Regions from separate parts of the Homo sapiens genome. Here regions 1, 2, 3, 4, 5 and 7 are each linked to region 6. The links come from fine-mapping of genetic effects on gene expression. A gene starts in region 6. Each other region holds a variant in brackets. All regions are shown on one strand. Distances are from middle to middle.

The links.
Region 1: its variant is fine-mapped to the expression of TCAF1 in whole blood (INTERVAL, PIP above 0.99).
Region 2: its variant is fine-mapped to the expression of TCAF1 in whole blood (TOPMed, PIP 0.97).
Region 3: its variant is fine-mapped to the expression of TCAF1 in tibial artery (GTEx, PIP 0.95).
Region 4: its variant is fine-mapped to the expression of TCAF1 in whole blood (INTERVAL, PIP above 0.99).
Region 5: its variant is fine-mapped to the expression of TCAF1 in whole blood (TOPMed, PIP above 0.99). The same link has a PIP of 0.9 or more in blood mononuclear cells.
Region 7: its variant is fine-mapped to the expression of TCAF1 in skeletal muscle (FUSION, PIP 0.95).

The regions. Positions count from the first base shown.
Region 1 is chr7:143,716,640-143,721,145 of GRCh38, forward strand. It overlaps TCAF2 (TRPM8 channel associated factor 2), which reads left to right. Exons shown (of 8, transcript NM_001363538.2): 3 at 3,044-4,035. Among named protein-coding and RNA genes, the nearest start is that of CTAGE6, 39 kb to the right of the region's middle. The variant C/G (reference allele first, on the strand shown) is at 1,837.
Region 2 is chr7:143,365,876-143,370,381 of GRCh38, forward strand. It overlaps a transcript of FAM131B not described here. Among named protein-coding and RNA genes, the nearest start is that of FAM131B, 5.4 kb to the left of the region's middle. The variant G/C (reference allele first, on the strand shown) is at 1,776.
Region 3 is chr7:143,844,104-143,848,609 of GRCh38, forward strand. It overlaps LOC112267988 (a long non-coding RNA gene), which reads left to right. Exons shown (of 3, transcript XR_007060571.1): 2 at 259-399. Among named protein-coding and RNA genes, the nearest start is that of TCAF1, 56 kb to the right of the region's middle. The variant C/CATA (reference allele first, on the strand shown) is at 2,155.
Region 4 is chr7:143,784,785-143,789,290 of GRCh38, forward strand. No RefSeq gene overlaps it. Among named protein-coding and RNA genes, the nearest start is that of CTAGE6, 29 kb to the left of the region's middle. The variant G/C (reference allele first, on the strand shown) is at 2,550.
Region 5 is chr7:143,725,647-143,730,152 of GRCh38, forward strand. TCAF2 (TRPM8 channel associated factor 2) reads left to right here. Exons shown (of 8, transcript NM_001363538.2): 8 at 1,767-4,506. The coding sequence ends at 2,021. Among named protein-coding and RNA genes, the nearest start is that of CTAGE6, 30 kb to the right of the region's middle. The variant G/T (reference allele first, on the strand shown) is at 2,639.
Region 6 is chr7:143,899,947-143,904,452 of GRCh38, forward strand. TCAF1 (TRPM8 channel associated factor 1) reads right to left here and starts at 2,230. Exons shown (of 9, transcript NM_014719.3): 1 at 2,015-2,230. It overlaps LOC105375549 (a long non-coding RNA gene), which reads left to right. Exons shown (of 3, transcript XR_007060574.1): 3 at 1-2,007. RefSeq lists enhancers at 1,198-1,735, 1,411-1,460 and a silencer at 2,251-2,390.
Region 7 is chr7:143,749,477-143,753,982 of GRCh38, forward strand. No RefSeq gene overlaps it. Among named protein-coding and RNA genes, the nearest start is that of CTAGE6, 6.0 kb to the right of the region's middle. The variant C/T (reference allele first, on the strand shown) is at 2,422.

The sequences.
Region 1 (4,506 bases), 180 kb before region 6:
ATTCATATATACTGTGATGATTCAAATGTATTTCTTGCTCTTACCCCCTTTTAATTTTATTTTCTATTTTTATGCTTTATTTCTTTTTACATTTTTCCTTGGTTGCTACTAAGCTTTATCCATTTCTTAAATTTCCTCAACACATTTGTAGATTATACATTTTACTTCTATTTTTGGAGCAGTTATCTTAAATTTTAAATTTAATGTTTGATTACCTGAGAAATATAATTGTACATTCTCCTTATTTGAAGAAACAAATTATTGAGGCAAAAGCCCTTTTCATCATCTCCTTCAATGTCAGTCCTTTCTCTCTATCTCACAATCCAAAAGAAAACACTCTTATCAGTTTATTGTGGTTGTTCCCTGACATTTTGGACATATATTGACGTATGTTTACTTTGCTTTATATTGTGTCTTCCATAAGTTGCATCACCAAGTTCTGCTATTTTTGAAATTGTTTTACTCAACAAATATATTTTGAACATCTTTCCTTGTTAATTAACATAGGTGGACCTATTCTTATTGACTGATAAATAGTAATCCATCATATGATTAAATGCCAATTTTTATTTGCATTCATATTAGTAAACATTTAACTTCTTCATATTTTTTCACTATTACCAACAATTTGCAATGAACTTCCTAGTACTGCCTCCATTTATACTACTATAGGCTGTTTCTCTTTTTAATGTTATTGGATACTGCCAAAATGATCTCCAGTTTTTATGAAAGATTAGTTTTCTCCACACTCTTGCCAACACTTAATATTGTCAGCTTTTGAAACATTTACTAATTTTCTGGGTAAAATATGTTATTATATATAATTTGCATTTGTGTGATTATATCTTTTCAAATGCTGAATATCTCACTTGGATTTCATCTTTCATGAACTGTTTGAGAATATACTTTAAAAATATTTTCTGTTTTTTGCTTTTCTGTTTATCCTTAGAAATTACTCATATATTCTGAATTCTAATTTTGTATCTGTTCAGTCTGTTACAAATATTTGTCTCTCAGTGACCTCACCTTCTTTAACTTTATTTATGCTGCCTTTATGCTAAGAAGTTGTTGGTTTTTTTCTTTAATTCTATGTGGTTCTTGCAGCTTTTGTCAACCATTCTAGTCACTTCCTAGATTCCCAATGCTACTGTAGTTTGTGTGTGTGGGCATGTGGATGAATATATGCAGTCATTTTAATTAGCTGTGGAGAGGATATCTGCAAGTAACTGCAGCTTTCCATATTGAAGTTTTACTACCATTAGCTGAGGCTTTGCCAGGTGCCTGTGAGAAGATGCTAAGAACACTTCGAGTGGAATTTTTCATTATTAAGTCTTGTAGCTCAATGTCATTAACTCCCCAAAATATCTTGAGTTCCAACAGGTAACAAAAAGCCACAGGCAGAACTGATACCTGAACTCTATGACATTTGCCATGTGAGTCTGAAAATGGGATGACAAAACTAAGACATGCCATCTCCTCATTTTCATGCTGAAAAGAAATTAAAGAGAATCTGCACAAGAGTTACATTTTTCAATAATGTGTTACTACTGGAATAAATAAACTATACTTTTTAAAAAATATAACATTTAATTTTTAATTATAAGAGAAATAGATGTTAATTTTAAAATTTGAGAGAATAAAGTTTTATAAAGATAATTAAAATGACCTAAAATCCCACCAGCCAAGACGACCACTGAAGACATTTTTTTTAAACAAAGATATTTTGATAAATATGCTTTAGGTTCTGCTTCTATGTCTGGTTTCTTGGTTTTTTATTTTTTTTACCCCAAAATTTGGCTTATTTAGAGCATGGTATCCTGGAATCTAATTTTAAAA[C/G]TTTTTCCATTAAGCATTTTTCAAATTACCTAATATTTATTTTAATCACTATATGGTTTGCAATCTATTGTTAACCATAATTTATTTAACCAACCTCCTATTGCTTGACATTTACAGTATATACAAATTGTTTTAAAAAAATTCTTGAAATACAAAGCCTTTTCTTGATTCATTACATTTTGACCATTCCTTAAGAAGAAGAAGTGAATACTCTAACCAGATCTAAGTGAAGTTTTAAAAACAGTGTGTGTTTGTATAAATCTTCAAGCGTAGTGTTAAACAATTTAATTGTGATGTGTTCCTAGATCAGAACTACCCTACGGAGAGTCCAGATTTGGTGTTTTTACAGCCTTCCTTTGCAGAAAGTTAGATCGAGAAATTCATAAGCAGTACCACATTCTCTGGGCATAATAAACTAGTTTTTCTAACTTGTTTATATGTTTAATTATTTTAAAAGTCAAGAAACTGAAGCCAAAATATTCAACACATAGTTGACTAAATGGGAGGAATTCCTGGAGGTGTTCATTTAGAAAATGTGGATTTTAAGATATGCAAGTAAGGGCACTACCTCTATAGCGTTTCCTCAAATCTATGACAAATTGATTGTGAGAAATGCCATTATTTTATGTATCACTAAGAAAGACCAGGCCGGGCATGGTGGCTTACACCTGTAGTCCCAGCACTTTGGGAGGCTGAGGCTGGCGGATCAAAAGGTCAAGAGATCCAGACCATCCTGGCCAGCATGGTGAAACCCCGTCTCTACTAAAAATACAAAAATTAGCTGGGTGTGGTGGCACGCACCTGTAGTCCCAGCTTCTCGGGAGGCTGAGGCAGTAGAATTGCTTGAACCCGGTAGGTGGAGGTTGCAGTGAGCCGAGATTGTGCCACTGCACTCTAGCCTGGCGACAGAGCGAAACTCCATCTCAAATAAAAAAAGAAAGAAAGAAAGAAAAGAAAGAAAGAAAGACTAAACGTTGCCAATTAAATGATAATATGCCATCAGTTGTAAAAACAGTGAAAAAATATGCCTTAAACATGATAAAAATAAATGATATTAGCATGCTAAAATCCTAACATTAGTAAGAATGTGAAGATTGACATGAACCGTGCAATCTTCTTACCTGCACATAGATTTCTCTACTCAATGAGTTCGATTCAGTGGCTCATTAACTGACTGTAGCCTCATTGTTTCTCCTGTCTCTTCCAGGTATGGGGAGGATGTCAGGCAGGACCAGCAGCAGCTCCTGGAGGGGATCTCAGAGCTGGACATCAGGACAGGGGGAGTCCCCTCACAGCTGCTTGTACATGGAGCCCTGGCCTTCCCTCTGGGGCTGGATGCCTCACTCAACTGCTTCCTGGCGGCTGCTCACTATGGCCGGGGCCGGGTGGTCCTGGCTGCCCACGAGTGCCTGCTCTGTGCTCCCAAGATGGGGCCCTTCTTGCTCAATGCGGTGCGCTGGCTGGCCAGAGGCCAGACAGGCAAAGTTGGGGTGAACACAAATCTAAAAGATCTGTGTCCTCTCCTATCGGAGCATGGCCTGCAATGCAGCCTGGAGCCCCATCTGAACAGCGACTTGTGTGTCTACTGCTGCAAGGCGTACAGTGACAAGGAGGCTAAGCAGCTGCAGGAGTTTGTGGCTGAGGGTGGGGGGCTGCTGATTGGGGGCCAGGCCTGGTGGTGGGCCTCCCAGAACCCTGGCCACTGCCCCTTGGCTGGCTTCCCTGGTAACATCATCCTCAACTGCTTTGGCCTCAGCATCCTGCCTCAGACTCTCAAAGCAGGCTGCTTCCCCGTTCCCACCCCTGAGATGAGAAGCTACCACTTCCGCAAGGCGCTCTCTCAATTCCAGGCTATACTGAACCACGAGAATGGGAACTTGGAAAAGAGCTGTCTGGCAAAGTTGAGAGTTGATGGTGCAGCCTTCCTACAGATTCCTGCGGAGGGGGTCCCTGCTTACATATCCCTGCACAGGCTCCTGAGGAAGATGCTACGAGGGTCTGGCCTCCCAGCTGTGAGCCGGGAAAATCCAGTTGCCAGTGACTCCTATGAGGCTGCGGTGCTCTCCCTGGCCACTGGGCTGGCTCACTCTGGAACTGACTGCTCCCAGCTGGCCCAGGGGCTTGGCACCTGGACCTGCTCCTCCAGTTTGTACCCCTCAAAACACCCCATCACCGTGGAGATCAATGGAATCAACCCAGGTATGAAAACAGGAGAGAGTGCCCAGAACATTAAAGATGTAGGGGAAAGTGGGATTGGCTGACACTACACAGGACATTGCAGGTACTTACCCTCAGGAAGATTGACCCCATTCTTTTTTTTTTTGAGACAGAGTCTCACTCTGTCATCCAGGTTGGAATGCAGTGGCGCGATCTCAGCTCATGCAACCTCCACCTCCTGGGTTTAAGCAATTCTTCTCTCTCAGCCTCCTGTGTTGCTGGGACTACAGGCACACGCCACCATGCCTGGCTAATTTTTGTATTTTTAGTAGAGAGGGAGTTTCACCGTAAAGGTAAGGCTGGTCCGGAACTCCTGACCTCAGGTGATCCACCTGCCTCGGCCTCCCAAAGTGCTGGGATTACAGTCGTGAGCCACTGGGCCCAGCTGACTCCATTCTTCATCAGGTACTTTCAAGAAGATGGGGATTGGGACACTGCTTAAGGTTTAGAGGG
Region 2 (4,506 bases), 530 kb before region 6:
TAGGATTACAGGCGTGAGCCACCACGCCTGGCTTACTAATTTTTTAATTTTTATTTTTGTAGATGGGGGTCTCACTATATTGCCCAGGCTGATCTTGAACTCCTGGCCTCAAGCAATCTTCCTGCCACAGGATCCCAAAGTCCTTGAATTACAGGTGTGAGCCATCGCACCTGGCCAAAAAAGCCAGCATTTAAACTCAGCTCCTCAGAGGGAAAATCTATTCTGGATGTTGTAGAAAGTGCTTTATTTGTTCACTTAAAAAAACTAAAGTTACTCAACTCAGGACATTTGAATGGATACACGTTCTTTCACGCTTGTCTTTTTTTAATTAAGGTGGGACCATAAACTGAAGAGAGGAATACATCTATCTACATTTCTAAATTTTGAAATGGGAAAGCAATGATCTTTCTTCAGAGTGATTTGTAGCAATAAGTCTTTGGTGCTTTCATAAAATACTGATGATAAGTGTCTTAGTCCCTACTTATCAATGTCCTTGTATGGTGTTAGAGTATCTATCTTCAGGCAGCCCTGAAGATCAGTCAGCTTTGGGGCACTCCTAGTGGTTCTCAAATACCCTATTTGCTAAAGGCCAGAAGTGAGAGTGCTGATGCTGGAAAACATTGGTAAGAATAGTCTTGGGGACTAGGTGGAAATCACGAGGGTCAGTAACAAAGGTCTGTATTCTTTTTTTTTTTTTTTTGAGACAGAGTCTCACTCTATCACCCAGGCTGGAGTGCAGTGGTGAGATCTCGGCTCACTACAACCTCCACCTCCCAAGTTCAAGCAATTCTACTGCCTTAGTCTCTAGAGTAGCTGGGACTACAGGCACCCGCCACCATGACTGGCTAATTTTTGTATTTTTAGTACAGATGGGGTTTCACCATGTTGACCAGGCTGGTGTCGAACTCCTGACCTCAGGCGATCTGCCCGCCTTGGCCTCCCAAAGTACTGGGATTACAGGTGTGAGCCAATGCACCTAGCCTGAGGTCTGTTTTCTTTAAAATGAGAATGATTTCCTAAATATTCAGTCAACAGGAGGACCAAGAGTGGGGTTTAGGGGCATTAGGTTGCTGACAAGGGACCCCATTCATACACAGGGGCAGACTCAGAGGCAAGTCATGGATGAGTGCAGATGTTTGTAGTGTGTAAGTTGTATTCCCACATAGTAGGAAGTGGCCATAGAATCTGTCCTAGTGGTCGATATAGTTCTCCCCCGACCCCTACCTGCCATCCCCAGCTGGTTTCCCAGAGTAATCAACAGATGAGGGTCCTGGCCATTGTGCTGGGGCACAGCAAGTTTGCTGAGGAAGGATGGCTCAGCCAGTTAGTTATAGAGGATGAGAGGGTCCATGGCAGAAGTTCTGTGGTTTCAGCGTTGGTGGTGGGGACAAAAAGCCCTCACATTACCAATCTCTGATCTGTTGGACACTATGAAAGAGACCAGCACAGGACATGCTCATTTGACTTTTAGACAAGGTTTGAAATCTTGTAAAATATTGGGGATCTAAGGTGAGCTCACTCCCACTTTTAGTTAGAAAAGAAAGCTTATCTCTGGGCACGGTGGCCCACACCTGTAATTTCAGTACTCTGGGAGACCAAGGCGGGCAGATCATGAGGTCAGGAGTTTGAGACCAGCCTGACCAATATGGTGAAACTCCGTCTCTACTAAAAATACAAAAATTATCCGAGCATGGTGGTGTACACCTGTAATCCCAGCTACTCAGGAGGCTGAGGCAGGAGAATCGCTTGAACCCGGGAGGTGGAGGTTGCAGTGA[G/C]CCAATATCACGCCACTATACTCTAGCCTGGGTAACAGAGCAAGACTCCATCTCAAAAAGAAAGAAAGAAAGAAAGCTTATCGGCATGGGCAAACGTGGCAGGCACATTCTCCTTAGTGTAGTCCCCAGGCGCACACCTCCATGAGCCAAAGCCCTCCTGCATGGGCAGGTCAACGTCCCCAAATCACGTTCTGTAGGATTCAGCAGAAGAGAATGCCCAGACAACTGCTTCTTTGGTGACTGTCATAGAGCCTATGCTTCAGATGACCAAGGGGATGCATTTGCCCTGTGTTTTCTTTGGGAAGCACATTTGTGGGAAAGCCTGCAACCCCTACTGCAGATTTAGGGGTTCCATCCAAACATTCTGATAAGAAAGGCCAAGCCAGCAGATCGCGCCTGCATATCTGCCAGAGAGCCTGGAAGAATGTCAGCGCTTTCCTGCTGCTTCCTGGTCAGGTCCCAAGCACACACAGCACCTCAGGGTGTCCTCACCATGACCAGGCCACAAGCAGCAGCGACCAGGCAGGATGCCAGGACCAAGGAGGCAGGGCATAGAGTCTGGGCAACCATGAGTCAGAGGCCAGGTGGGTAGTAAAAAATGGAGTTCATAAATCCCAGAGAGAAGAACCAGATGGGATTTTTAAAGGTCAAGCCAATCCCAGAGCACTGACAAAGAGAGGGAAAGATCAAATAAAGAATACAAGGCAGTTGTTTGTTCCAGCCTCAGTAGGCCTATCTGCCAGTTTTATATTCCTTCCTCCATGGAGAACCAATGAGAACCAGGAACTGGAAGGCTTGTCCTGATTGTCTCCGATGCCTGCCTGTCTAGTATTTATGAACTCAGGGGAGAGGGGCAACAGATGTCATATCACACCTCTGAAGCCTCCCTGTCTCCCCTGCTGGGACCCTTTAGCCCTCACCTGTATGCACATTCCTCTAGGAGAGAGCTCCTGCCTTGTGCTTACAAGCCATCCTCCCCAGCTTCTGCCTCTGAACCACAGCCTGATGGTTGAGGCTCTATTACTACCTGTCAGACTTCTCTATCACCAGGCACAGCTGACAGCCTACCTCTCAGATTCCTGGATATATTTTCCTTCTGAGTTCCCCAGTTCTTTTCCTTTGCTAGCTTTTGGGATATCCTGCAACTTCAGCTTGGATTCCTCTTACAAACACTTGTTTGGACGGAGATCTGTTTCACCTACAAAGTCTAACTACCTGAAACCTTTTATCCTTTCCTGCAACTGATCCTGTTCCTAAATAATGTGTTTAATACATAGTGGGTAGATGTAGCTCCAGTTGGCTATGTCTTTATTTAAGTGAGCCAATCAAGTCCAGAGAAAAAACAGTGAAGGCATTTTCCCGACAGTGAAAGAGTGGTGGATATATAGGGCATTAGTTACAGATGACTGAGTGTTAAAACTGGTTGAATACTTAGAAATCAAGTTCCTTGCTGTACTTCCACAGACAAGGAAAATTCACCTCTCAGATTTTTACAGTCACACACTTAGTAAGTGGCTGAGTTAGTAAGTGGCTGAACTGTAACCAAAATTCAGGTCCTCTAATTCTTAGTCTAACATTCTTTTCCCTATCCTAAGATGCACCCCTAAAGCTATGTTACATTATTTTTCTATGACTTTTATTATAACATTAAGCCCTGTTGAAATAAGCTCAGGCCTCATAATCTTTTTGCTTATGGAGACTGTTCAACTTCTTGCAGATAAAACAGGTTAAAAAAATGTTTTGGCCGGGCGCGGTGGCTCACGCCTGTAATCCCAGCACTTTGGGAGGCCGAGGAGGGTGAATCACCTGAGGTCAGGAGTTCGAGACCTGCCTGGCCAACACGGTGAAACCCCGTCTCTACTAAAAATACAAAAATTACCCGGACATGGTGGTGGGCACCTGTAGTCCTAGCTACTCGGGAGGCTGAGGCAGGAGAATTGCTTGAACCCAGGAGGTGGAGGTTGCAGTGAGCTGAGATCGCACCACTGCACTACAGCCTGGGCGACAGAGCGAGAATCCGTCTCAAAAAAAAAAAAAAAGTTTTAAGCGAGTAGATCTCCTCATAAGCATTCTTACCAACCACAATAAAATTAAAAGAAAAAAAAAGACCATTGTTCTTTCTAACTTAGGAGTTCAGAGCTCATTTAAGAATGGGTACTTAATCCTAGTGTATAGGTTCAGACCACCGTTTGGTTAAGGTTTTGTGATGGTGATAAGCTAATAGGGACAAGGCATTGCTCTCCTGGGTGGGGGTCCACTTGAAAGCTGTTCACTCACTGAATCAATCAATCACAATTATCCTGCCAGGGCACCCACACAGGCAGGAAGGTCCAAAGGACACTGGAAATTTTGAACGCCAGGTGCTGGGTGTTTCTCTCTTTAACTTAAAGAAGAATTTCCTTTCCAACCTCTTTGTTCATGTATATGCATGAGGTGGCTAGTGGTAGTCAAGCCTGAATTTTATTACTGATGGTGGAAAACTGTGTTGGGGGCAGGGCCAAGGAATGCAAGCAATGTCTTCCTTCTAAGGTGGGAGCTGGAATTTGCCCCTTGATCTTTCTCTTCCTGGAGCTCTAGTTTCTCTCACAGCCAAAATTTTTGAAAGAGCTGCCGGCACTCATCTTCTCCATTTCCTTACTTCTCTGCACTCCTCAACTTACCCAATCTGGCATCTTCACTCTACTGAAGCAGCTCACACGGGGGGCTCCCCTGTCAGAGGCAATTGAACCAG
Region 3 (4,506 bases), 56 kb before region 6:
TCAACATCTAAGGCCTAGTTACCTGTTGGCCTGTTAGGTACATATATTAGGTGAGGTTTTGACCTTGGGTGAGGACATTGCTTTAAGCACTAAATAGATCAGATTAATCCCGTGAAGAGGAGATAGGAAGTGTTTCTGATAAATACTGCTTTGAAGATTGGCTGCAAGGCCAATACTCATCAGAGAGCTCCAGTTGACTATGGGAGTTAGACAACAGAGGAAAGTAAACTCATGACATATTTCAATTTCTCTTTACAGAAATTCAGACTCAGTGGTGTGGCAGAAGATAAAATAATTTGGGTTATTTCTGTGATAACATGGGCAATCTGGAAACTACTCCCATTTGTGAGGGTAAATCTCTATTATGATACATGGAAAATAGGACAGATGCTAATTCAGGTAAGAAAAGGTCTTTGTATTATACAAATATTTACCTTCAGACAGAAATGTTAATGAAGATGGAGAAGGAACAGTTACCAAGAAACTAGGGATAGTAGGACACAAAAAACCTGGTAACCTGGTAGTGAGTATGAACCAGTCTGGTGCCTTGCCTCCAGAGGAGCAGCAACTGAGCAGAGCTACTGGACAACCAGCCCTGCACTTCCCTAGAGCACAGACCAGCTCACTATGCAGCCACCAAGAGATAAGCACCGAAGGAGAACCTACCAGCCATGGATCCTCAGAAAACAGACCAGCTAAGTGCCCAGCCTTCAGGGGACAAGCAGCTGAGTGGGCATACCAGCCACACAAACTTCTGCAGCCAAGGCCACTGAGGTACTTGCAGGCACCACTGACATTAACTACAGCTAAAGAAGCTGCATGGAGACTACACTACTGCATCCACCCAGAACAAAAACAAATGTACCTTACCCAACCAACATGCTAGGACACATCTGCAGGTGTAAGTCTTTTCCGCTGAAAGTTATGCTACCAAGTTAGAAAAGGTGATTATTCCATCAGATGCACAGATGCCAGTGCAGGGATACAAGAAACATAAAAAAGCAAGGGAACATGACACCACCAAAGAAACACAATAATTCTCTAGTAACTGACCCCAATAAAAAAATAAAAATTTATGAATTGCCTGAAAAGGAATTCAAGATAGTGAGCCTAAGGAAACTTGGTGAGACATGAAAGAACACAAACGGATCATTCAACAATCGGGAAAAACAGTTCATGATCTGAATGAGAAATTCAACAAAGAGAGAGATATCATAAAAAAGAACAAAATAGAAATCTTGGGGCCAAGAAATTCAATGAATGAAATAAAAAAACGCAATTGAGAGCTTCAACAGCAAAATAGATCAAACAGAAGAATTTTTGAACTTGAAAACAGGCCTTTTGAAATAGTCCAGTCAGAGGTAAAGAAAAAAAAAAAGGAATGAAGAAGCCTATGGCATTTATGGGACACCATAAGTGAACAAATGTTTGCATTTTGGCAACTTAAGAAGAAGAGATGAAGAAAGGCAAAGAAAGCTTATTTAACAAAGTAATAGTTGAAAACTTCCCAAGTCTTGGGGAGATATGGACATCCAGATCCATGAAGTTCAAAGGATCCCACAAAGATTCAACTCAAAGAGGTCCTCTCTGAGGCATATAACCAAACTGTCAAAAGTCAAAGACAAAGAAAAAAATACTAAAAGCAGCATGAGAAAAACATCAAGTCACATATAAGGGAATTGCCATTGGACTATTAGCAGATTTCCCAGCAGCAACCTTGCAGGCCAGGAGAGAATGGGATGATATATTTAAAATACTAGAAGAAAAAAAGCTGCTAGCCTAGAATACTATACCAGCAAATCTTTGCTTCAGAAATGAAGGAGAAATAGTCTTTCCCAGATCAGCAAAAGTTGAGGGAACTCATTACCACTGGACCAGACTTACAAGAAATGCTTGAGTATTTCTATTGGAAAAAAAAGTTTTCATGATAATTGCTACCATAAAAAAACATGAAGTATAAATCTCACTGCTGGAGATAAATGCATTATCAAATTCATAATGCTTCATTACTGCAATGGTGATATGTAATGTTTCAAACCTCTAGTATGAAGGTTAAAGGCCAAAACAGCTGGGTGCTGTGGCATGTGCTTGTAGTCCCAGTTATTTAGGAGGCTGAAATGGAAGGCTCATTTGAGCCCAGGGGTTTGAGTCCAA[C/CATA]CTGGGCAACATAATGAGACCCCATTTAAAAAATAATAATAATTAAAAAAATGCAGCTCTGTGGGATGCCAAAAAGTGAAAATTGTAATAATGATTATAGCAATGATAAGTTGTTAAGGAATAAACAATATATAAAGATGTATATTAAAGCAACAAAATTATAAATTTGGGTGCAGAATGAAAGTCTAGAGTATTGGTATGCAATGAAAGTTAACTTGTTATCAGCTTAAAATAGTCTATTATAAGTATGAGAGATTTTTAATGTAACCCCAATACTAATCACAAAGAAAAAATTACAACAGATATACAAATGAGAAAGAGAAAGGAATCAAAGCTTAACACAACAAATACCCTAATCAAGCCACAGAGATAAACATGAGAGAGGAAGAAAGGAACAAAGGATAAACAAAACAACCAGAAAATAATGAACAAAATGGCAGAAGTCCTTACCTATCAATAATAACTTTGAATGTAAATGAAATAAATTCCCAATTAAAACATACGCCGTGGCTGAATGGATTAAATTAAAAAAAAAAAAAAACAAGATTCAGCAACATGCTGCCTACCAGATAGGCACTTCACCTATAAGGCCACACATAGACTGAAGTGAAAGAAGAGAAAATGAAATTCTGTGAAAATGGAAACCAAAACAAAGCAGGGGTAGTAATACTTACATCAGACAAAATAGACTTTAAGTAAAAAACTGTCAAAAGAGAAAAGAAGGTCATTATATAAAGAAAGATAAAGAAATCAGTTCAGCAGAAGGTTAGGACAGTTGTCAGTATATGAGCACACAACACCAGAACACCCAATATATAAAGTAAATATATAAAGCAAATATTATGAGATCTAAAGGGAGAGAAAAATTAAAATAAAATAAAAAAGGACTTTAGCACCCTCTTTCAGCAATGGATGGATCATCTAGATAGAAAATCAACAAAGAATTATCAGATTTAAATTACATTCTAGACCAAATAGCCCCAGCAGATATTTATAAAACATTCCCCTCAATAACTACTGAATGTACATTTTGCTCAACAGCACATGGAACTTTTCTCCACGATAGAATATATGTTAGTCCACAAAACATATCTCAAGCAATCAAAAAAATCAAAATCTTATCAAGTATCTTCTCTTACCACAATGCAATAAAAACTAGAAATGAATACCAAGAGGAACTATGGAACATATACGAATATGTGAAAACTAAAAACAAGTTTTTACAAAACCAGGGCATCAATAAAGAAATTAAAAAGAAAATTTAAAAATTCCTTGAGACAAATAAAAGGAAACATAATGTACCAAGACCTATGGGATACAGCAAAAGCTATTCTAAGAGGGAGTTTATAGCAATAGATGCCTACATCAAAAAAGTATAAGAATCTTTTATAAAAACTTTATGTGGCACCTCAAGGAATGAGAAAAACGAGGGCCAGCTGAACCCTAAACTACTAGAAGAGAAGACTGATAAAGATCAAGCAGAAATAAGTGAAATAGAGCCTGAAAATAATATAAAAATCAGTAGAACAAAAAGTTGGTCCTTTGAAAGATAAACAAATGTTTTAGCTAGACTAACAAAAAAGAGAAGACTCAAATAAATATAATCAGAGCTAAAAAAGGAGATGTCACAGAAATACAAAGGATCATAGAAGACTTTTATGAGCAATTATATGCCAATAAACTGGAAAACCTAAAAGAAATAAATAAATTCCTGGACACATGCAACCTACCAAAGTTGAACTACTATGAAGAAATAAAATACCTACACAGGCCAATAATGTGTAACAAGAATGAATCAGTAATAATAAGTCTCCCGTCAAAGAAAAGCCCAGGAACTGATGACTTTACTGCTAAGTTCTACCAAACATGTAAATAATAATATCACTTCTTTTCAAACTATTCTAAAAAGTTGAAGAGGTGCAAATTCTTCCACACTCATTCTATGAGGCCAACATTATCAAAACCAGACAAGGATAACTTGATAAAAAGAAAACTACAGGCCAATCTCCTTTATCAACATAGATGCAAAAATCTTTAACAAAATATAAGTGAAACAAATTCAACAGCATATTGAAAAAATAATTCACCACAATCAAGTGAGATTCATCCCAGGGATGCAAGGATGGTTTAACATATGTAAATCACAAATGTGATACATCACATTAACAGAATGAAGGACAAAAATGACATAATCATTTTAATAGACAAAGAAAAAAATTTGATAAAATTTAACATCCCTTCATGATAAAAATTCTCAGCAAATGAGATGTAGAAGTAATATACCTCAACACAATAAAGGCCATAAATGAGAAGCTCATAGATAACATCATACTGAAGAAGTTGAAAGCTATT
Region 4 (4,506 bases), 120 kb before region 6:
TTGATTTTCTTTTAAGGAAAAGTTGAGATTGGGTAGAAAACAAGGTAGAGGAACACTGTTGGACCCACGGAAAGGGGACTTTTCTGAGACTTTCTCTGTTGGTTTTTAGAGCAATTTTCCATGGAAACAGTAGAGTTACCTTTGCCATGCCAAATGAAGATTTAGCGAATCTTACTTGGCTATGTAACAACAACAACAACAACAACACTCAATCATAAAATGAACAATTTGATTTTTAAGATGTTCAAAATATTTTATTAGACATTCTACCAAAGAAGATATGCAGATGGCAAATAAACACAGGCAGAAATACTCAATATCATTTGTGGGAAAAGCTGTCTTCTTTATATTTTCCCATATTTAATTTTTTTCTACTATTAGTAATATTGTATATTACTTCTATCAGAAAAAAATAATTTTAGAATTAGTATGTTCAATTTTATAATCATGCTTGTATTTTTTTAAATCATGAAGAGCAAACATTGCTGAGAAAATGACACCTATTCTTATGGATGATGGTTTTTTTTTCATTTTTTCACATTTTCAACTTTCATTTAGTGAACATATGTCACTTTTTATCCTAAAAAATTTTTTAAAATCAATTTTACAAGCATGGGATAGGAAAACTCTGTCTTGTTAATAAATGAAGTGAAAAATCTCTGTACCTTTAGTTGTTCATAAGTTGAAAATGAGTAACGTGATATATCTTTAAACACAAACTTCCATGTTAGCTACATTAGTAATGCTTCTTTCCCAGGAACTAATAATCCCCAAGCATATTCCCTTTTCATATCATCTCTGAAATAATCCATGCTATTCTGGGCACCATTTCAACAAGCATGTTGACCAGTTCAAGCTCACCCAGAGGAAAAGACCCAAGGCGAATATTCAGGAAAGAATGTGATATCAGAAACTCTAAGGCATCAAAGTCTGAGGAAAAATATGAAGATATTCTCTAAATACTTTCGAGGCTGGCATTTAAAAGAAAGAGAATGTCTTCTCTGAATTATCAGAAAACGGACTTCTATCAATTGTTAAGAATATCGTTGCCAAATATACATTCAAGAACCAGGAGAATGACAACCATATGGGTTCAGGGAACTGTTTGACCTATTTTGAGGCAAACTGGACAGGATCCAATTTGTTTCTTGAGTCTCAGGAGCCCTTTCTCTGATAGGGGGAAGCAGTGGTAATTGGTCATCCTCGGGAAATAGTATTTCCTCAGAGGCAGCATCCAGTAGTTCCTGAAAGTCTGGGGCATTTTTTCACAGCTATTTAAACCAAGTAAGTAGTACTAGAACCCTTTGGCGAAGGCTTGGAAGAAGGTTCATGTACCTCATTTGTGGTTATTATAGCAGTATTTATCCCTGAAGTAACCTAGTCTCCTTCATTGGAGGGATCTGGGTCTAATGGAACCATTTCTGGGAATTAGGTAAAGGACCATAATTCTGTCGTTGTGGCTCAACAGACCTCTGTTCATTGGGACTCGTATGTGTTCTAAAAATATAGCAAGGCTGTAATGGTATGCCTATTTTTTTTTTTTTTTTTGAGATGGAGTTTCACTCTATCACCCAGGCTGGAGTGCAGTGGCACAATCTCAGCTCACTGCAACCTCTGCCTCCCAGGTTCAAGCGATTCTCCTGCCTCAGCCTACTGAGTAGTTGGGACTACAGGCATGTGCCACCATGCCCAGCTAATTTTTGTATTTTTAGTAGAGATGGGGTTTCACCATGTTTGCCTGGCTGGTCTTGAACTCCTGATCTCAGGTGATTTGCCCACCCTGGCCTCCCAAAGTGCTGGTATTACAGGCATGAGCCACCGCACCCAGCCTATTTCATTTTTTTAAGACCCAGAATTGTGGTGTGTTTTTGGCACATGGAGTTAAATGGAATCAAATACATAGAAAACACATAATATTTCTGAGAGAATTATATTGGCAAAAGTGTCAGCAGCCTGGTCTTAAAAAAGCTGAGGCTGCACATGTATACATATGTAACAAACCTGCACGTTGTGCACATGTACCCTAAAACTTAAAGTATAATAATAATTTTAAAAAATTACTGGCTGACTCTCTTTTTGGACTCAGCCCACCTGCATCCAGGTGAAATAAACAGCTTTATTGCTCACACAAAGCCTGTTTGGTGGTCTCTTCACATGGACGCGCATGAAATTTGGTGCCGTGACTTGGATCGGGGGACCTCCCTTGGGAGATCAATCCCCTGTCCTCCTGTTCTTTGCTCCGTGAGAAAGATCCACCTACGACCTCAGGTCCTCAGACCGACCAGCCCAAGGAACATCTCACCAATTTTAAATCAGGTAAGCGGCCTCTTCTTACTCTCTTTCTCCAACCTCTCTCACTGTCCCTCAACCACTTTCTCCTTTCCACTCTTCATTCTCTCCCTTCTCTTAATTTCAATTCCTTTCATTTTCTGGGAGAGACAAAGGAGACACATTTTACCAGTGGGCCCAAAACTCCGGCGCCAGTCACAGACTGGGAAGGCAGCCTTCCCTTGGTGTTTAATCATTGCAGGGAAGCCTCTCTGATTATT[G/C]ACCCACGTTTCAAAGGTGTCAGACCACGAAGGGATGCCTGCCTTGGTCCTTCACCCTTAGCGGCAAGTCCCGCTTTTCTGGGGAAGGGGCAAGTACCCCAACCCCTTCTCTCCTTGTCTCTACCCCTTTTCTGCTTTTCTGGGGGAGGGGCAAGTACCCCTCAACCCCTTCTCCTTCACCCTTAGCGGCAAGTCCCGCTTTTCTAGGGGGCAAGATCCCCCAATCCCTTATTTCCATGCCCCAACCTCGTATCTCTGCGCCCCAATCCCTTATTTCTGTGCCCCAACCTCTTATCTCTGTGCCCCAATCCCTTATTTCCATGCCCCGACCCCCCTTCCTGCTTTTCGGGAGGGTAAGAACCCCCAAACCCCTTCCCTCCGTGTCTCTACGCTCTCTTTTCTCTGGGTTTGCCTCCTTCACTATGGGCAACCTTCCACCCTCCATTCCTCCTTCTTCTCCCTTAGCCTGTGTTCTCAAAAACTTAAAACCTCTTCAACTCACACCTGACCTAAAACCTAAATGCCTTATTTTCTTCTGCAATGCCGCTTGACCCCAATACAAACTCGACAGTATTTGTCCAAATAGCCAGAAAATGGCACTTTGAATTTTTCCATCCTGCAAGATCTAAATAATTCTTGTCATAAAATAGGGAAATGGTCTGAGGTGCCTGACGTCCAGGCATTCTTTTACACATCAGTCCCTTCCTAGTCTCTGTGCCCAGTGCAACTTGTCCCAAATCTTCCTTCTTTCCCTCCCACCTGTCCCCTCAGTACCAACCCCAAGCGTCGCTGAGTCTTTCTAATCTTCCTTTTCTACAGACCCATCTGACCTCTCCCTTCCTCCCCAGGCTGCTCCTCTCCAGGCCGAGCTAGGTCCCAATTCTTCCTCAGCCTCTGCTCCTCCACCCTATAATCTTTTTATCACCTCCCCTCCTCACACCTGGTCCGGCTTACAGTTTCGTTCCGTGACTAGCCCTCCCCCACCTGCCCAGCAATTTACTCGTAAAAAGGTGGCTGGAGCCAAAGGCATAGTCAAGGTTAATGCTCCTTTTTCTTTATCCCAAATCAGAAGCGTTTAGGCTCTTTTTCATCGAATATAAAAATCCAGCCCAGTTCATGGCTCGTTTGGCAGCAACCCTGAGACGCTTTACAGCCCTAGACCCTAAAAGGTCAAAAGGCCGTCTTATTCTCAAAATACATTTTATTACCCAATCTGCTCCCGACATCAAATAAAACTCCAAAAATTAAATTCTGGCCCTCAAACCCCACAACAGGACTTAATTAACCTCACCTTCAAGGTGTACAATAACAGAAAAAAGTTGCAATTCCTTGCCTCCACTGTGAGACAAACCCCAGCCACATCTCCAGCACACAAGAACTTCCAAATGCCTGAACTGCAGCGGCCAGGCGTTCCTCCAGAACCTCCTCCCCCAGGAGCTTGCTACAAGTGCTGGAAATCTGGCCACTGGGCCAAGGAATGCCCACAGCCCGGGATTCCTCCTAAGCCGCGTCCCATCTGTGTGGGACCCCACTGAAAATCGGACTGTTCAACTCACCTGGCAGCCACTCCCAGAGCCCCTGGAACTCTGGCCCAAGGCTCTCTGACTGACTCCTTCCCAGATCTTCTCGGCTTAGCGGCTGAAGACTGACACTGCCCAATCGCCTCGGAAGCCCCCTAGACCATCAGGGACGCCGAGCTTCGGGTAACTCTCACAGTGGAAGGTAAGCCCGTCCCCTTCTTAATCAATACTGAGGCTACCCACTCCGCATTACCTTCTTTTCAAGGGCCTGTTTCCCTTGCCTCCATAACTGTTGTGGGTATTGACAGCCAGGCTTCTAAACCTCTTAAAACTCCCCAACTCTGGTGCCAACTTAGACAATACTCTTTTAAGCACTCCTTTTTAGTTATCCCCACCTGCCCAGTTCCCTTATTAGGCTGAGACACTTTAACTAAATT
Region 5 (4,506 bases), 170 kb before region 6:
AGGTAACTTTGTATTGCATTCATTTCCATATCCTTAGATAGCCAGTCTGGGGGTATACGGGACCACTGACCACAATGGTAGGTTGCCCCTAAACTGTAAGTTTAAGCCCTAATTCTGTCCTAGTCTGCTACCTACTCACTGTGGAGCCCCGAATATCAGTTCTCAATAGCTCTAGAGAGACCAAGTCTGAGACTTGGCCTCAGGATAAACAGGCACCTTCTGACTCCTCTTCCTGCTAGAGGGCTTCTCCCCAGCATCCGTGCCACTGCTGCCTTAGCTCAGGCCTCGTTAGTCTTCCCTCAGTGTATTCCAGTAGCCTTCTAAGTTGTCCCAGCATCTTGCCTCAATCCTCTATGATCCATCTTCCTTACACTCCTTCCAAAATAATGTTAATACTCTGTCTATCAAATGCTTACAGTGTTCTCTAGCACATATAGGGTAAAGTCAAAGCTCATTAGCAGGGCATAGGAGGCCCTTCATGACCAGCCTCACCAGCACCTCTAGCTACATCTCCTACTGCTCTCACCTCCACATTTACCCTTCGGCATGCCAACCTGCTTATGGTTACGGACACAGCTTGCTGTTTTGGCTTCTGTGCCTCCCCTTGTTTGCTTCCTGCTGCTGAATCATGCTGGAACATCTTGTCCATTAGCTGTCAAGTCACCTGTCCAAATTCAGCTCTGTTGGCCCTTTCTCTCCTGGACATCGCCTCCTTGATAAACCAACAGTTTTAGCAATGTGTTTATTTACGTGTGTTTCTCCCTTTGGCCAGTGTTCTCTAGAAGGACAAGAGCTCTTAATGATGTTTGCCTAGCACAGTAGCTGGCGGTGTGTGGGTGTCTAATACATGTTAAACGTTTAATAAATGCTTAATTTATTGATGCATTGATTAATAAGTGTCAAAGAGCAAGCCAGTGAGAACAGATGAGCAATAATAAGGATACAACAGTGAGACTCTGAGGTAGGCTTGGCTTCGGTGGTGTTATCTGTCTTTGGGCTTTTATGAGCTACAGTCAGAGAATGCTCATCTATTAAAGGGAGAGTGGGGATGTGAAACCCCAGATCCCCGCTAACTGGAAATTTGTATAATCTTAGTAAACAAGGGCCTTCTGCCAAGGGCTTTCCGGAGAGCTGCCCCTTATGAAGTATGAGCCACTCTCATTAGCTGCCCCTTATGAAGTATGAGCCACTCTCATTTTTAGCCCCTCGAGACAGGCTGGATTTTTTTCTTTTTCTGCCCTAAATGCAGTGTTCTACAGAGCAATTTTGTATCATTGCAGATAGCCACAGGTCCAAGATGGCTATTAAAAAATAAGGATTATTATGATGTCTGGAAAGTATAGTATTGGAGGTTCGCAGCTTTTAGAATCTCAATAGGCCAGATATGTAGGAAGTGAGGGTTTCTCATCTCAGTCAGGCCCAAACCTGTCCTGATGCTGAGGAAAACACTTGAGATCTGGGAAGACAATTGTTTAAAGATACTAATAGTGGACATTTATTGAGTATTTACCTCTATTCAGACATTAGGTTTCCCCTGAGCACCCCCACTAGATTCAGGGGGTGTTGTTTTGTGGCCAAGAGGAGGAATGAGCCAACAAGATTGCATTATTGTGCAGGGGCAGAGTGGGGAGATAGGGGCACATACCCAGGATGAAGGTAACGATTGAGGGGAGGTGATCATGTGAATGAAATATATTTAAGAACGCACATGTCACGTCACTTTTGCAAACTTGACACCTCATTCTGTTCCTTCTTTCCCTTTTCAGCTCCAAGAGGCCTTCGGGTGGGAGCCATTCACCCAGCTCTTTGCTGAGTACCAGACCCTCTCTCACCTCCCCAAAGACAACACTGGCAGGATGAATCTATGGGTGAAGAAGTTCTCTGAAAAAGTGAAGAAGAATCTGGTTCCCTTCTTTGAGGCCTGGGGCTGGCCTATCCAGAAGGAGGTGGCTGACAGCCTGGCCTCCCTACCAGAGTGGCAGGAAAACCCCATGCAAGTGTACCTCCGTGCCAGGAAGTAAAGGATGCCCCACAAGGCGGGAGAGAAAAGGCAGGGTCACGCCATCAACTCCACCATGGGGCTTTGGCCGTGTGCTCAGTATCTGGAGCCTGAATCCCGCTTCCAAGCCTGACCACTAGATGGTGGCCACGGTCATAAGAAAAAATGGAACCCCTTTCTGTAAAAGGTGCCTTGTGCTTCTTTTTATTGTTTTTCTGCCTACGCTATTGCTTTCCCCAAGAGACTCACTTCACCTCTTAGTCTTCCAGAGAGGATCTTTCATCCTGCCATCCTGAGGCTTCTATTTTTGACCAATAGCTCTAAAGACCACGGGTTCCCATAACAACCTGATATCCCTTTCTCATCCCTGCCATCCCTGAATAAGGCTTCTAATTTATTATGCTTTAACAAGTTTTCAAATAGCAAGCGAGACACGCTGGAATAGTGGAGAGAGCCCCAAACCAGCTTTGGTTCTATGGAAAATCACTCCACCTCTCTGTGTTTCTGTCTTCACATCCATGACATGAGGATACAAATCTTTTCCTCACAAAGCTGTTGTTTGATTTCTCCTGGTCCCATAGTGGACTGTTAACGGTGTCCAGTCTAGCGTGCACATCCTGGGTGCTGAATCTCACTTCA[G/T]TGTTGACCCCCTTGGGGTTAGCATTCAGTCCTTGTATATTTAGAGAATGTCAATGTTTTCCCAGACATGGTATCAATAATGGTAGTTGTCAGCAGTATCTTAGCCCTTTCTACATTTTTTCTCCCACTTCTGGAAGGATTCTTGGGTATAACCTAACCCAAAGAAAAGTGGCATGTGCTGAAACTGAGTGTCACAGAGCTGTGAGGTTGGGTCTTTGGGATTAGCTTCATTTTCCAGGGTTTGCCCTTTGCCCTTCAACCAAAGGACAAAGTCATGTTAACAGCTGCTACTAAGTCTATATGCCCATTCGTTCATACCACAAAACAGGCATCTGACTCCTCTGGTCACCATGGAATCAAGGCACTGTCAAGTGGTGGGGGGTCCACAGGCACAGTGGGCTTCACTCTGGAACAGGATTACTGGGTGCAGCGGATGTAATCCTCACTTAATCAACCCACACCCCAGCATCCCCTGAGCTTTCTCTTAATCTCATTCTAGCCCATCTTGACTCTTCGGTTAGAGGGAGTTCTCATTGGAGATTTGTCTCTGGGATTAATGAGTGTATGCCTAGCTACTTTCTCCAGTTTACTTTTAGACCATATTGTTGTTTGTTTTGAATATCATTCCTTAGGCTATGTTGAGAGTAGAGTGGCTTCCCATTAGGAGAACTAATTTAGGGCATGTCTTTTGCTGAATCCCGTCAGCATATTTAACAAATTCCCAATTCTAGATAATTTCCTTTTATTTCTCTAGTACCCTTTGCCAGGGGCTCTACACATCAAAGGTGTTCATGAAGTATTTGTCAAAGGAAAGAACAGTAATGACACCTAACACATAATGAGTGATTAGTATGTTCCAGGCATTGCGTGAGCTATTTACTGTGAGTGATTTAATGTTATCTTCCCAGCAGACCTCTGAGGTAGGTACTAGTATGATCCCCATTTCGTACATGAGGAAACTGACACTAAGGGACATAAAATAAGTTTTTTGAAGTCACAAAGTGAATAAAAGGAAGAACCAGGGTTTAATTGAAGCCCATAGCAATGAAAACATTGTGGAACTTATTCTTCATGAATGGTTTACAATTTAAACAAAATGTCACCTAGAAAATAGATGAAAATATGTTCAACCAGGTCTGGATTTTTCCAATGTTTACTACTGAATTTTCATTCAATAACAAGTTTAACTTCCAAAAAGGTGTTGGTATCTGATTTTCTGCCTGCCTCAGAATGTGATTTGTCTGCCTTTGGGTCATCCAGCCTTGGGTAGAGAAGGAATTTGAACTCAGGAAATTCAACTCCAGAACTGATGTTCTTTTTTTTTTTTCATTTAAGTTCTGGGATACATGTGCAGAACGTGCAGGTTTGTTACATAGGTATACATGTGCCATGGTGGTTTGCTGCACCTATCAATCCATCATCTAGATTTTAAGCTCTGCATGCATTAGATATTTGTCCTAATGCTCTCCCTCCCATTGCCCCCAACCTCCCGACAGGCCCCAGTGTGATGTTTCCCTCCCTGTGTCCATTTGTTCTCATTTTTCATCTCCCACTTATGAGTGAGAACATGTGTTGTTTGGTTTTCTGTTCCTGTGTTAGTTTGCTGAGAATTATGGCTTCCAGCTTCATCCATGTCCCTGCAAAGGACATGAACTCATTCTTTTTCATGGCTGCATGGTATTCAATGGTATATATGCCATATTTTCTTTATCCAGTCTATCATTGGTGGGCATTTGGGTTGGTTCCAAGTCTTTGCTATTGTAAATAATGCTGCAATAAAAGTATGTGTGCATGTGTCTTTATAGTAGAATGGTTTATAGTCCTTTGGGTGTATATCCAGTAATGGGATTGCTGGGTCAAATGGTATT
Region 6 (4,506 bases):
TGCCAGACTGACAAAAAATGTAATTTTACAAGACTAAGCTGTGGCAAGCATGTAGAGCAACAAGAATGCTCATCCACTGCTGGAGGGAGTGCAAACTGGTTTAACACTTTGGAAAGTTTAGAAATGACCCAATAAAATTGAATACACATAAATCTTATAACTCCGCAATTCTACTCCCAGCTATATACTCTAGGGAAGCTCCCACACAAGTGTACTTGAATATTAGAGGACATGGGCAGGCTTTAAAGTGGCCCCGATAATCCCTGCCTCCAGGTGTTCATGTCCTTGTGTCACCCCCTTCCCTTCAGTGTGAGTTGGGCCTAGGGACTCACTTCTAATGAATATAAAATGGCAAAAATAATGGGATGTCGCTTCTGAGGTTACAGAAAGAATCTGACTTCTGTCTTTCTCTTTTTCTCTGTGGGAGCCTTCTCTCTGGGGGGAGTAAGCTGCCATGTTGCAACCATTCTTTATACAGAGGCCCATGTGGCAAAGAACTGATGTGTACAGCCAGGGTCAGTGAGGCCAATCGGCCTGCCAGCAGTCATGTGAGTAAGCCTGGGAGAGGTCCTCGACCCTACGCCTAGCCTTGAGATGACTGAGGCCCAGTCAATACCTTGATTGTTGATACAGCTTGTGAGAGACCCTGAGTCAGAGACTCCCAGCTAAGCCCCTCCTGGATTCCTGATCACAGAAACTGTAAGATAGGAGGTAACAGGACTTGTTTTGTTTGTTCGCTTTGGTTTGAAGCTGCTAGGTGTTGGGGTAATTTGTTACATAGCTTATAGATAAATCATACACCTCCAAAAGTAGAAACAATCCAATGTCCATCAGCAGTAGAATGGATAAATTATGTACATTTACACCTTAAATGACGAAAACGAAAATGGAAGGAAGCATGAAAGATGAATCTATAAAACTTAAGAATACGTACAGGATAATGTCATTAATATAATGTCATTATAATGAGAAAGCCAATACATATGTTTTAGGAATACACACACAAATATGGTAAAACTAAAAAGAAAAGCAAGGGATTCATTAAATTAAGACAAAAATCACGAAAGATGTCACATCTCAGAGAATGGAGGAGAATGGACCATGGGCATCAGTTGGGACTCATGGGCTTCTAAGGTACTGTGACGCCCTATTTCTTGACCCAAGGAGATGGTCAGGCATTCGTTTCATTATTTTTTAGACCATTCTGAGATATTTCATTTACTTTTTATTCAACATTTTAAAACAAAGTATTGAAACCAATTCATCAACAAATCACTAGTTTGGAGGATGAAAGTGATGGACCGATGGTTGGCTGGTCAGCTAGACAGACACATTCTGTCCTTTACGTCTAGTTCGAGCTGTACTTCTTCTAAATTTCCATGATTATCCAATTGGCAAAGATCTTTTTCTCCTGTACTTAAGGCCTTCTTCCGTTGCAGGTTGGGCCAAACTAGCGGCCAGCTCTCGGCTGTTTACCAGGGAACTGTATCACCCAGCACTTGCTGCTTCAGGCCAAATGCATTCCAGACTAACATTCAGCCTGAATCCCCGCGCCGCTCTCACCGCCACCCCTCCCCAGGTCCCTTCCCCCACCACAAACCCACACTGCGCCCGTGGGCGCCTAGAGCACTGGGGTGGATGAGAACTTCCACCTGGGCTTAACGGAGACAAGCTAGCCTAGAAGAATGCAAGCCCCCAGCTGGCGAGATCAAATCGCCTCGAGGGTTCCTGCTAGCTCAGATCTTAATGGCTCCTTGCGGAGCAAAAAACAAATCCTACGAAAATAGGGGGGGTCATCGCCTCCTGCCCAGCAGAGGGCATAACAATGCGGCGAGAATGAAATAGGCACCGAGCTGCAGAGAAAAATCATCAACGGGGTAGAGACGAAGGAAGGGATCCTCGGTGGAACGGCTCTATCACCTGGGGGCGCGCGCAGAGGCCGCAATCCACGCCCGGCCCTCCCCAGACGCTAAACGTCGCACCCCGCCCACCGCTCCCCGCCCCGGACACTAACCCGGGGCCCAGGCCTCGGTCACCGCGGGCCTCTCCTGGTCCAGAGTCTACGCTGAACCCCACTCACTGTTTGCCCCGCTGTTCCCTGCAGCGCGGGTTCGGGGCAGTAGCAACCTGCTAGGAGCGGGAGGCGGTTGTTCCCAGGAGGAAGCAGCTTCTCCGCCCAGGAGGCAAAGGGCAGCGGGCTCGAAACTACAGGACTTGGAAAGTCTTAGGCGGAGACTGCGGGGGTGGGGGGTGGTGAGGAGGGGCCTTCCAGGGAGCTGATTGGTCGACGCGGACGGGGGCGGGACTTGGCCGGCGCCGTCCCTCCCCTAGACCTCAGAGGCCCTGCCCGCAGATGTGGCGCCAAATCCCGGATGCAGGCCTAGGCGCCAGCCCAGGAATATAGGGAGCAAATTGTTAAGAACAAAACAAAACAAAACAAAAGTGAGAATACTTCTGAACAAGTGACGGCCTTGATAAATAGCGAGAGATGTTTATATAAAATAATACAGGACTATTTTTAAGGACGAGTGAAATCTATCGGTTCTAGCTATAGTTTTTAATTAAAAAAGCAAGTTGTATTAAAATGGAGAGTAGGATCTCTCTTTCCCCCTCCCCTCCCCTCCCCTCCCCTCCCCTCCCCTCCCCTCCCCTCCAGGGGGAGGGTCTGCTTCTGCCACCCAGGCTGGAGTGCAGTGGTGCCATCACAGCTCACTGCAGCTTCAACCTCCCAGGCTCAAGCGATCCTTCCACCTCAGAGGCTGGGACCACAAGTGCGCCGCCACCACGCCCAGCTAACTTTTTGATTTTTTGTTAGAGACAGGGTTTTACTTTGTTGCCCAGGCTGGTCTCGAACGCCAGGGCTCAAGTGATCCTCCCGCCTCGGCCTCCCAAAGTGCTGGGATCACAGGCCTGAGCCACTGCATCAGCTTTAGCATTACATTCGTGTATGAAGAAGACATGCTGCATGTGCTTCTATAAGAGGCGGGGCTAACGGTGGAGAAATTGTCTATTGATTCTTACCTTCACAACCACTGAATTGTTTTTTTTTAAACCAATACATTGTTTTTATAAGTTTAATAAAACAGTAAGGCGTTGAGAATGTTACTAACCAATCAACAGATGACAGATATTGGGCATGAGGGAGGAAAGAAAGAAAGGAGTAGCAGGGAAAAAGCCTGGACTTTGAAGCCACCACATCCTCTGCTTACAAGTTGGGCAGTGTATTCATTGCTAAGGCTGCTGTGATAAATTTTCACACATTTAGTGGCTTAAAACAACACAGATTTACTACTATCTTCCAGGACTGTAGGTCCTGGAAGTCCAGCACAGGTCTCACTGGGCTATCATCCAGGTGTAGGCAGGGATGTGTTTCTCTTTGCAGGATCTAGGGACAAATCTATTTTCCTTGCTTTTTCCAGCTTCCAGAGGCTCCCGCATTCCCTGGCTTGCAGCCCTTTCCTTCATCTTCAAAGTCAGCAATCTCATGGCTCCAGCCTCTGCTTCTGTGTCACATCTCCTTCTTTGAGTCTCCTGCTTCCTTCTTTCACTTAGAAGGACCTTGTGATTACATTGTGCCTATCCAGATAATCTAGATAATTTCCCATCTCAAGGTCAGCTAATTAGCAGCCTTCATTCTGTCTGCAACCTTAATTCTCCCTTGCCATGTAGCATTGCGTATCACAAATTCTGGGAATTAGGATCTGGACATCTGTATTAATCCATTTTCACACTGCAGATAAAGACATTCCCCAGACTGGGCAATTTACAAAAGAAAGAGGTTTAATTGGACTCACAGTTTCACGTGGTTGGGGAGGCCTCACAATCATGGCAGAAGGCAAGGAGAAGCAAGTCACATCTTATGTGGATGGCGGCAGGCAAAGAGACAGCTTGTTCAGGGAAACTGCCGTTTTTAAAACCATCGGATCTCCTGCGACCTCTCCACTATCATGAGAACGGTTGGGGAAAGACCCACCCCCATGATTCAATCATCTCCCACCAGATCCCTCCCATAACACGTGGGAATTATGGGAGCTGCAAGATGAGATTTGGGTGGGGGCACATAGCCAAACCATATCAACATCTTTAGGGAGCTATTTTTCTGCCTATCACAGAGGGCTTGTTAACTTCTATCTTAGTGTTTTCATCTGTAACATTGGGGATAATAATTGTCTCTACTTCATGGAATTTTTATGAAGATTAAATGACTTAATACAGATAAAGCTCTTAAAGCAGTGTCTGGCACATGGAAAACCCTATGTGAATGTTCACCATTACCAGAGAATGGACAGATCCTTCCAGACTTCTTCCATGATTTCCTTGGCCCTTGTCTCCTTTGCTCTTCAAATCTCCAAGTTGTGTGTTCTCTCCTCATTTCCCTGCAAATCTAGTCTCCCCTCAAAACTACATAGGCCTAGCCTGAGATTGGAGGGCAGACATGGATGGGACTTTACTTCTAAGAGATTTCTAGAAGTGAATGCACCCAGCTACTAGCACAGAGGCATAGTT
Region 7 (4,506 bases), 150 kb before region 6:
AAAAACCGGAAAGCCTCTTCTCCTCCAAAGGATCACAACTCCTCGCCAGCAAGGGAACAAAACTGCATGGAGAATGAGTGATGAATTGGCAGAAGTAGGCTTCAGAAGGTAGGTAAAACAAACCTCTCTGAGCTAAAGGTGCATGTTATAACCCAATGCAAGGAAGCTAAGAACCTTGAAAACACATTACAGGAATTGCCAACTAGAATAACCAGTTTAGAGAAGAACATAAATGACCTGATGGAGCTGAAAAACACAACACGATGACTTTGTGAAGCATACACAAGTATCAATAGCTGAATCAATCAAATGGAAGAAAGGATATCAGAGATTGAAGATCAACTTAATGAAATAAAGCATGAAGACAAGATTAGAGAAAAAAGAATGAAAAGGAATGAACAAAGCCTCCAAGAAATATGGGACTACATGAAAAGACCAAACCTACGTTTGATTGGTATACCTGAAAGTGACCAGGAGAATGGAACCAAGTTGGAAAACACACTTCAGGATATTATCCAGGAGAACTTCCCCAACCTAGCAAGACAGACCAACATTCAAATTCAGGAAATACAGAGAACACCACAAAGATACTCCTTGAGAAGAAAAACCCCAAGACAAATAATCATCAGATTCACCAAGGCTGAAATGAAGGAAAAACTGTTCAGGACAGCCAGAGAGAAAGGTCAGGTTATTCACAAAGGGAAACCCATCAGACTAACAGCAGACTTGGCAGGACCCTACAAGCAAGAAGAGAGTGGGGACCAATATTCCACATTCTTTTCTTTTTTTTTTCTTTTTTATTTTCTAGACCACTGAGAAAATCTTTGTTTACACTAAATTTCAACAAAATTTACATAAATACATTCCAAATGTACAATTTTCACCTCTGATTTTTTCACGTCATTTAAAAGGTTAGTCTGTCCTGTTCCTGTTTTTCCTTTCAGACACCAGTGTGGCACTGACGTTGGCAGGTGGAGGGGAGCTCCCAGGGAGCTGGGGGGTGCCTGAGGGCTCAGGCTGCTTGGGGCAGACTTCTGTCTGGGCCGCCAGCTTTTCAGCTGCATCCCTGCCCTCACATTCTTAAAGAAAAGAATTTTCAACCCAAAATTTCATATCCAGCCAAACTAAACTTCATAAGTGAAAGAGAAGTAAAATCCTTCACAGACAAGCAAATGCTCAGTGATTTTGTCACCACCAGGCCGGTGTTACAAAAGCTCCTGAAGGAAGCACTAAATGTGGAAAGGAACAACTGGTACCAGCCACTGCAAAAATGTACCAAATTGTAAAGACCATCAACACTATGAAGAAACTGCATCAACTAATAGGCAAAGTAACCAACTAACATCATAATGACACGATCAAATTCACACATAACAATATTAACCTTAAATGTAAACAAGCTAAATGTCCCAATTAAAAGACAGACTGGCAAATTGGATAAAGAGTCCAGACCCATCGGTGTGCTGTATTCAGGAGACCCATCTCATGTGCAAAGACACACACAGGCTCAAAATGAAGGGATGGGAGAAGATTTACCAAGAAAATAGAAAGCAAAAAAAAAAAAAAAAAAAAAAAAAAATCAGGGGTTGCAATTCTAGTCTCTGATAGAACAGACTGTAAACCAACAAAGATCAAAAAAGACAAATAAGGCATTACAAAATGGTAGAAGGATCAATGCAACAAGAAGAGCTATCTATGCTAGATATACATGCATCCAATACAGGAGCACCCAGATTCATAAAGCAAGTTCTTAGAGACCTACAAAGAGACTTAGACTCCCACACAATAATAGTGGGAGACTTTAACACCCTACTGTTGATGCTAAACAGATCAACAAGACAGAAAATTAACAATGATATTCTGGACTTGAACTCAGCTCTGGACCAAGTGGACCTAATAGACATCTACAGAACTCTGCATGCCAAATCAGCAGAATATACATTCTTCTCAGCACCACATCACACTTATTCTAAAATTGACCATATAATTGGAAGTAAAACACTCCTCAGCAAATGCAAAAGAAGGGAAATCATAACAAACAGTCTCTCAGACCACAGTGCAATCAAATTAGAACTCAGGATTAAGAAACTGACTCAAAACTGCACAACTGTATGGAAACTGAACAACATCCTCCTGAATGACTACTGAGTAAATAATAAAATTAAAACAGAAATAAATAAGTTCTTTGAAACCAATGAGAACAAAGACACAACGTACCAGAATCTCTGGGACACAGCTAAAGCAGTGTTTCGAGGGAAATTTATAGCAATAAAAGCCCACAGGAGAAAGTGGGAAAGATCTAAAACTGACACCCTAACATCACAATTCAAAGAACTAGAGAAGCAGGAGCAAACAAATTCAAAAGCTAGCAGAAGACAAGAAATAACTAAGATCAGAGCAGAACTGAAGGAGATAGAGATA[C/T]GAAAAACCCTTTTAAAAAAATGAATCCAGGAGCTGTTTTTTTGCTTGTTTGTTTTTTGAAAAGATGAACAAAATAGACTGCTAGCTGGACTAATAAAGAAGAAAAGAGAGAAGAATCAAATAGACACAATAAAAATGATAAAGGGGATATCACTACTGATGCCACACAAATGCAAACTACCATCAGAGAATAGTATAAACACCTCTACGCAAATAAACTAGAAAATCTAGAAGAAATGGATACATTATCGGACACATACACCCTGCCAAGACTAAACCAGGAAGAACTCGATTCCCTGGATAGACCAATAACAAGTTCTGAAATTGAGGCAGTAATTAATAGCCTAGCAACCAAAAAAAACCCAGGACCAGATGGATTCACAGCTGAATTCTACCAGAGGTACAAAGAGGAGCTGATACCATTCCTTCAGAAACTATTCCAATCAATAGAAAAAGAGGACTCCTCCCTAACTCATTTTATGAGGCCAGCATCATCCTGATACCAAAACCTGGCAGAGACACAACAAAAAAAGAAAATTTCAGGCCAATATCCCTGATGAACATCGATGCAAAAATCCTCAATAAAATACTGGCAAACAGAATCCAGCAGCACATCAAAAAGCTTATCCACCACCATCAAGTTGGCTTTATCCCTGGGATGCAAGGCAGGTTCAACATATGCAAATCAATAAACGTAATCCGTAACATAAGCACAGCCAATGACAAAACCCACACAGTTATCTCAATAGATGCAAAAAAGGCCTTTGACAAAATTCAACAGCCTTTCATGCTAAAAACTCTCAATAAACTAGGTATTGATGGAACACATCTTAAAATAATAAGAGCTATCTGTGACAAACCCACAGCCAGTAATGTCCTAGGCCTTCATATTCACTCACCACTCACTCACTCACTAACTCGCCCAGGCAACTTCCAGTCCTGCAAGCTCCATTTATTGTAAGTTCCCTATACAGGTGTACCATCTTAAAAATCTTTTATATTTTCTACTGTACATTTCATGTATTTAGATATACTTAGTTACATAAATACCACAGTTGGTGACTATTACAAATTGTTACCATAAACATAACACTTACTGTGTTACAATTGCCTATAGTATTCACTACACTAATATGCTGCACAGGTTTGTCCCGTAGGAGCTATGAGCTCTTCCATATAGCCAAGGTGTATAGTGGCTACTATATATACCACCTAGGTTTCTGTAAGTACACTCTACGACATTTGCACAATGACAAATTCACTTGACAGCACATTTCTCAGAACATATCATTTAACGCATCGTTAAACAACACATGACTGTATAATGTTAGCTTTTTGTAGATGCTTTTTATCAAGTGGATAAAGTTTCCTCTATTCCTGCTTTATAGAGAGATTTTATCATGAATGGATATTGAAATGTGTTAAATTTGTTAAATGTTTATTATGCATCAACTGATGCAACGTAACTTTTCTTTTGTTTGTTAACATGGTGGATTATTTTGATTGACTTTTTGAGACTTAATCAGGCTTGTATTTCTGGAAACAACCCCCCTTGGACATGGGGTACATTTTTTTAATATACTGTAGAACTCTATTTGTTAATATTAAGTTATACATATCTTTACATATACACACACACACCCACTCTCTCTCCTGGTTTTGGTATCAGTGTAATAATAGCTTCAAAAAATAAATTGGGGAGTGTTCTCTCCTTTTCTGTTTTCTGGAAAAGATTGTGTAGAATTGGTGTTTTTTTTTTTAAACATGGTAGAATTCTCCAGTGAAACCATCTAAACCTAGAGATTCCTTTTCTGGTAGTTTTAAAATTATGAATTCAATTTTCTTAATGGTTATAGAGTTATTCAAATGATCTATTCATGCGTGGTGAGTTGAGTTTGCTTGTGTTGCAGGAGGAACACTGCATTTTGTCCATTTTGTCTAAGTTGTCTAATTTATGTGTGTGGAGTGGTTTGTAATATTCCTTGATTGTCCTTTGTTATATGTGGTGTCTGTAGTGATATCACCTGTTTCATTATGGTATTTAAAATTTATGCCTTTTCTTTTCCTTTTAATTTCTGTTTGAGT